Homo sapiens: one gene and its partner. The protein of the gene in region 1 purifies or fractionates together with the protein of each later gene. This does not show direct contact. Each region holds a gene or a part of one and is shown on either strand. Other genes may lie near its edges.

Region 1 (3,500 bases):
ACAAAAATGAGCTTAACATATGCTAGAATAGCTAAGCCATAACTCCATTACCAAATTAACCTCTACTAAAAGTTTTACTACAATATTCTCTGTTATTAGCAGTATCTAAAAGTGTCTAACGTTAGCCAGATGAGGTGGGTCACGCCTATAATCCCAGTGACTCGGAAGGCTGAGGTGGGAGGATTGCTTGAGCCCAGGAGTTGGAGGATGCAGTGAGCTATGATTGCACCACTGCACTCCAACCTGGGCAACAGAGCAAGACCACAACGCTTAAAAAAAAAAAAAAACAGTCTAAACATTGGCAGCATTTAATCTTAGCATTCGTCTAGAAGCAAACATTAGGACTGATTTTTTAAAATTATAAAATGTAACTTAAGAGAGGGAACAGAAAAGAAAAAAGCCCGTAGACACTGACGTAGATGCAAATGATCTGCTTTCATAACTATGTGAATCATAAATGAAAAAGCACTGGACTTGGGACCAGAATCTGCCATATGCTGACTTTGCAACCTTGGACAAGACCATCTAAACTCGGTCAGTTTCTTGATCTTTAAAACAGGAGACAAGCACCTATTATCTTACCTCATTTAATTACAGTAAAGATAAAGTAACAATGTAAATTATAGTAGTAACAAAATAAAAGCTAACATTCTGTTAGCACTTGAGATAAGTATATAAACATCAGGTTCTAGCTATTTTTGCAATCAATCAGGCTAAGGTGAGAGGGGAAGCAGGGTTCACTCATTCAGAAGTCTGGATTGCAGACTCAACTGAAACAGACCTATTACTAAGTATCAGGCACCTTGCTGGGTGCTGTCCCAACATTTCATTTCGTGTTCACAGGAACATTTAGCAGATGACACAGCTCAGGTCCTGAAGGTGGAGTAACTTGTCCAAGACATCACCGTCAGTGTCCTAGCCCCAATCAACTATTTTCCACAACACCAAACTGCCTTACACTATATAGCTTTTCCATGTAAAAAGTTAACATGGGCTAGGCACAGTGGCTCATGCCTATAATCCCAGCACTTTGAGAGGCCGAGGAGGGAGGACTGCTTGAGGCCAGGAGTTCAAGACCAGCCTGGGCAACACAGCAAGACCCCCATCTCCACACACAAAAAATTTTTTTTAATTAGCAGCTGGGCACGGTGGCTCACGCCTGTAATCTCAGCATTTTGGGAGGCCGAGGTGGGTGGATCACCTGAGGTCAGGAGTTCGAGACCAGCCTGGCCAACACAATGAAACTCCGTCTCTACTAAAAACACAAAAAATTAGCCAGGCATGGTGGTGGGCGCCTGTAATCCCAGCTACTCTGGAGGCTGAAGCAGGAGAATCACTTGAACCCGGCAGATGGATGCTGCAGTGAGCCGAGATCGTGCCACTGCACTCCAGCCTGCGCAACAAGAGTGAAACTCCATCTCAAAAAAAAAAAAAAAAAAAAAGAAATTAGCTCAGTGTGGTGGCACGTGGCTGTAGTGCTAGCTACTCGGGAGGCTGAGGTGAGAGGATCACTTAAGCCTGGGGATTCAAAGTTGCAGAGAGCTATGATCATGACACGGCATTCCAGCCTGGGCAACAGAATGAGACCCTGTCTGTATTAAAACAACAACAAATGATTCTTCTTTGTTTCCCACAGTGAATCTGCAAGCCAGGTGGCTTTACCTTAAAGACATATCCTTTATGGGTGCCCTTTTCATTATTGCCAGGAAAATCTAAGTTATGGGCATCTTTTGCTTAGATTACTGCCAAAGCCTAAATGGTCACCCTGTATCCACTTGTGCCCAACTCTAGTCCATTCTTCATTCAGCAGTTAATTTTCCTAAAACATAGATCGCACCAGACACTTGCTCAGAACTCGTGGATTGCTTCCTAGTACACTTCTGATGATATCCACCATACTTACTGTGGCCTTATAAATCATACAGGATTACCACCTCTCTGCCCATCTTCCCAACTACAGCATGGCTCCACTGGCTTATGTCCAGGTCATCAAATGTTCCAAGTTCTTTCCACCCGCTGGGCCCGTGCATGTATTGCACCCTCTGAAACAATCTTTCAGCTACTCTTTCCACAGCTATCTCCTATTTATTCTTCATGTTTAACCCCCTTCTCAAAAACTTTTTTCTGAACTAATTACTTTCCTATACTTTTTTTTTTTTTTGAAAGAGTCTCACTTTGTTGCCTAGGGTGGAGTGCAGTGGCACGATCTTGGCTCACTGCAACCTCCGCCTCCCCAGCTTCAAGTTAATTCCCCTGTCTCAGCCTCCTGAGTAGCTGGGATTACGCCTGGCTGATTTTTGTACTTTCAGTAGCGACGGAGTTTCACCATGTTGGCCAGGCTGGCCTCGAACTCCTGGGCTCAGGTGATCCGCCCGCCTTGGCCTCCCAAAGTGCTGGGATTACACATGTAAGCCTCTGTGCCTGGCCCTAGACTGTCTTATAGAACACTGTACTGTTCCTTCACAAAACTTAACACAATTTGAAATGATATATTTACCCATGAAATTGTTTAATAAAACTATTTCTCCTATTAGACTATCATCCACAGGGTAAGGACTGGGTCTATTTTGCTTACTCCTGTTTTCTCAGCCCCCTCATAGAATGGGATGGTAAACTCAAGAAAAGTGCTTCTGCGTGGTATATCCATTATTAATACTGCATTTGATCCTCACAACAATCTTGTTTTTTTTAAAAAAGAAAACATTACAATATTTTACTAAAGATCCTGTACAGTTTTCTTTGTCCTACTTCTTGTAAGCGTTATTTTTTCAAAATGAAAATTGCTTTTCTGATTAAGAAAGAAACATGTTTATTCTAAAGGGAAAAACACGCCCACAATCCCACCAGAAATACCCACCTTCAACATTTTGATGCATGAACACATTCAGAAACCGGTATCACACTCTACATATTTTTTTGTATGTAATCTGTTTTATTTGCCCCCTCTATCCACCTAATATATTGTGGGCAACTTTCCATGTCCATAAGTCATTTATTTGTTAAACCATGTATTAAGTACCTTCTACTTGCTGGTCACTGTTGTGTACCATTATGCTTTGTAGGTACAGCAATTCCATCTTATGACTCACCTAACACTTATAAGGCAGTGTCTACCATCCTCCACGCCCTCCCTCAAAAAGCCTGATAAGCAGGAGACTTCTTCCAAGTCTTCCTACCTTGGTGACCCATTCCGTGTGCCCGGTGAGTGTGTTCAGGCATGTCCCAGCAGATAAAGCCCATACTTTCACAGTGAAGTCTGCAGAGCCGCTCACCAAGATATCCAGTTCATCATTGTAGTCCACGCTAAATACTAGTGCATATAATTACACAAAGTTAAAACATGTCTCTGTCAGTGGGTCTTTTATAATAGAGTTCAATAATGTTTATTTTCCCCAATTATATAATTTCCCAACCAGAGACACCGTAAGAATGATGCTATTCAACTAGCAATTTTCTGATAAAACTATTTCAAAATTCTTACTATTATAGCTTATTATTCT
Region 2 (3,317 bases), on another chromosome or scaffold:
TGTACAATTCTTTGAATGTAACCCTCTATATCTGGAGGCCTTTCTCATACATAATTTTTTATTTCGATTTTTATAGACAGCATCTTGCTATGTTGCCCAGGCTGGAGTAGAACTCCTAGGCTCATGTAATCCTCCAACTTCAGCCTCCAGGGCCTGACTTTTCACACATTGTTTAAAAAAAAAAAAACCGTGGAGTAATAAAAATAATCTTTTTTTTTTTTTTTTTTTTTTTAGACAGAGTCTCGCTCTGTTGTCCAGACTGGAGTGCAATGGCTCGATCTCGGCTCACTGCAACCTCCGTCTGCCAGGTTCAAGCAATTCTCCTGTCTCAGCCTCCCGAGTAGCTGGGACTACAGGCAAGCACCACCATGCCCAGCTCATTTTTTGTATTTTTAGTAGAGATGGGGTTTCACCATGCTGGCTAGGCTGGTCTCGAACTCCTGACCATGTGATCCACCCGCCTTGGCCTCCCAAAGTGCTGGGATTACAGGTGTGAGCCATCATGCCCAGCCAATAAAAATAATCTTTATAGGGGAGATTTATAGGAGAAGTAGTATAAATTTTAGGAGTGGTAGGATGGTCTGGCTAGGCCAAGATACTCAGGAAATATCTGGCATTGAATGCAAAGAAACTCTGATAACCTGAAAATAGTCCTAAAGTATAGTCTTGAGCCTACCTGAAACCAGTTTCAGAGCTCAAAAGTTGCTCTCTAAAGGCTTTTAAAAATATCTACAGAAACTTAATATTTCCATTGTTATAAATTCTTATCCTTAATGGTGCTGGATAACACAATTCATCACTTGAATATGTATCCCTTTCTAGTATAAAATAGACCATTTCCCTCCGCATTTCCTATATTTCAGTCAATCCACCAGAAAGTTGTGACTCAGCACCATTAAGATAATTTAGAAGTAAATATGAAGATTAAAGAGGTCTCTTATTTTTTAGTGGTTAAGAACACAAACTTTGCATGGTAGCTCATCCTAATGCTTTGGGAGGCCAAGGGAGGAGGATCACTTGAGGCCAGGAATTCGGGACCAGCCTGGGCAACATAGCAGAGACCTCAGCTTCCTGAGTAGCTAGGGCTACACGCCTGTACCACCACACTCAGCATAACAAAGACTGAGAACCTGTAGCCCTAGCCACTCAGGAGGCTGAGGTGGGATGATTGCTTTGAACCCAGGAGTTATAGGCTACAGTGAGCTATGATTGCACTATTGCCGTCCAACCTGGGTAACAGAGCAAGACCCTGTCTTAAACAGACAAATAAATAAATAATAATTCATTCACCCACTCACTCACCCACTGACTTTGGACTCTAGCACATAGAAAGCCCTAAGTACATATCGGGGAAAATAACCGCTAATTAATATATACTTTCAATGCTTACTGCAGCCCAGGTAGAGAATGGATTATAGCAAGACCCTCAGACTGTATGGAGGCAATTCAGCAAGTGGATGGAGAAAAGGGGAGCTTTAAAGTACACAGTGAAGCCAGGCGCAGTGGCTCATACCTGTAATCCCAGCACTTTGGGAGGCCAAGGTAGGCGGATCACCTGATGTCAGGAGTTCAAGACCAGCCTGGCCAACATGGTGAAACCTCATCTCTACTAAAAATACAAAAATTAGCCAGGTGTGGTGGCAGGCGCCTGTAACCGCAGCTACTCAAGAGGCTGAGGCAGGAGAATTGCCTGAACCCAGGAGGCGGAGTGAGCCAAGATCCTGCCACTGCACTCCAGCCTGGGTGACAGAGCAAGACTCCATCTCGAATAAATAAATAAATAAGTAAGTAAGTAAAATAAAGTACACAGTGAAGCCAGGTGTTTGTATCATATCTATCTGCAGCTATAAAATAGGAGAAGCAGACATTGCTATTTGAGCAAAGACATCATATGGTTCTAAGCCACAAAGACTATTACCCTTTCCAGTTGCAAACCAAAGACACTATAAATATGGAGAATGAGCAACACTGTTAGCCACAAAAGCCATACTCATGTACTTGATGGGCAATGATTTCAGATTTTATTTTTAAATAAAACTTTTTTTCCCTTTTAAAAAATTTTTGTTTTATTTTCTTTTTTAATTTTTCTTTTCTGCTTCATCCACTGACTCTCAGACTTTTTTTTTTTTTTTTTTTTTGAGACAGGGTCTCACTCTCTGACCTCAGCTGGAGTACAGTAGCCAGATCACAACTCACTGCAACCCTGACTTCCTGAACTCAAGCAATCCTCCTGCCTTAGCCTCTTGAATAGCCGGGACTACAGGTGTGCATGTCCATGCCCAGCCAACTTTATTTCTATTTTTTGTAGAGACAGGCTCTTGCCATGTTGCCCGGGCTGGTCCTGAACTGCTGAATTCAAGTGATCCTCCCACCTTGGCCTCCAGAAGTGCTGGGATTATGGGTGTGAGCCACCATGCCTAGCCAAAATGTTTCTTAAGGTATACATTTTGGGTCTTAGAAGACTTATACATTTGTAATATTTATTACTAAATATCTCAAAGTATTACAATAAATGTTACCATGTGAGCTACTTTGAATCAGGCTTCTTGCACACCAATTTAAAAATGTTAACTCTTGATATATACACTAGTTATACCACTCATGTCAGTCAATAAATTTTAAGGTTTAAGTGCAGGCCTTTGTTTACAGAAATCCTAATTTTTTGAAACCATAACTCTGACCTGACACTAAATTCCTGTAGACATGCTAAGGAAAATCTGCTTAGTATCGAGATCAAGAACTTTCATTCAAAAAGATTATTCAGTTATGTTATTTGCATATTACCATTATTAAAAATAAAAAAATTTTTAAAAGATGGCTCAGGAATCCTTTCATTCTAAAATGTTTTATTAGCCTTCTGCAGGCTCTGGGTTGGCTTTCTGGACATGTTTCCCAAGTTGGTTCAAACACACTATTCTTGGTCTTGATACATTTGTGATATCTGATGTAATTGTAGATGAAAAAGAAAAAATATTATGGGAATCCTTGGTCTTTTTTGTTGCTTTGAAGAGTCCCATGAAGTTAGTTACAGGAGGTAATAAAGTCAAAGAATCTTTTGGTTGAATTTTAGGTTTTAATTTTCTTCGGTGCTCCTTCCCTAAAAATTAGCCACAATTAAATGTCTCTCCTGAGAGCCCTAGGTATAGTCTCATTACTTCTACTTCTATGTAGTTCTATTTTCTTTACATAACTAAAACATACTAAGAGAACAGATCAGTACTTCCAGACATTTAGATGTCAGGGGCCAAAAATTTGTGGGGACCACTATATGGTTTGCTAGCTTGTTATGTCAAGTTAGCACCAATAAGAGAACGAAT

The links. The genes of interacting proteins can lie anywhere in the genome.
Region 2: the proteins of FBXW2 (region 1) and OSGEPL1 purify together in Homo sapiens (affinity purification with mass spectrometry, with the first as the bait; one large-scale study listed by BioGRID). This does not show direct contact.

What each region holds. Positions count from the first base shown.
Region 1 is NC_000009.12:120,772,917-120,776,416, forward strand, and holds part of FBXW2 (F-box/WD repeat-containing protein 2), read right to left. Parts: intron 3,311-3,500; coding exon 3,177-3,310; intron 1-3,176. UniProt on the Homo sapiens protein: Substrate-recognition component of the SCF (SKP1-CUL1-F-box protein)-type E3 ubiquitin ligase complex.
Region 2 is NC_000002.12:189,746,160-189,749,476, reverse strand, and holds the end of OSGEPL1 (tRNA N6-adenosine threonylcarbamoyltransferase, mitochondrial), read left to right. Parts: intron 1-1,395; exon of another isoform or gene 1,396-2,145; coding exon of another isoform or gene 2,146-2,215; exon of another isoform or gene 2,216-2,308; coding exon of another isoform or gene 2,309-2,345; 3' UTR 2,346-2,817; downstream 2,818-3,317. Other genes in the region: ANKAR (ankyrin and armadillo repeat-containing protein), read right to left, coding at 2,850-3,097. UniProt on the Homo sapiens protein: Required for the formation of a threonylcarbamoyl group on adenosine at position 37 (t(6)A37) in mitochondrial tRNAs that read codons beginning with adenine.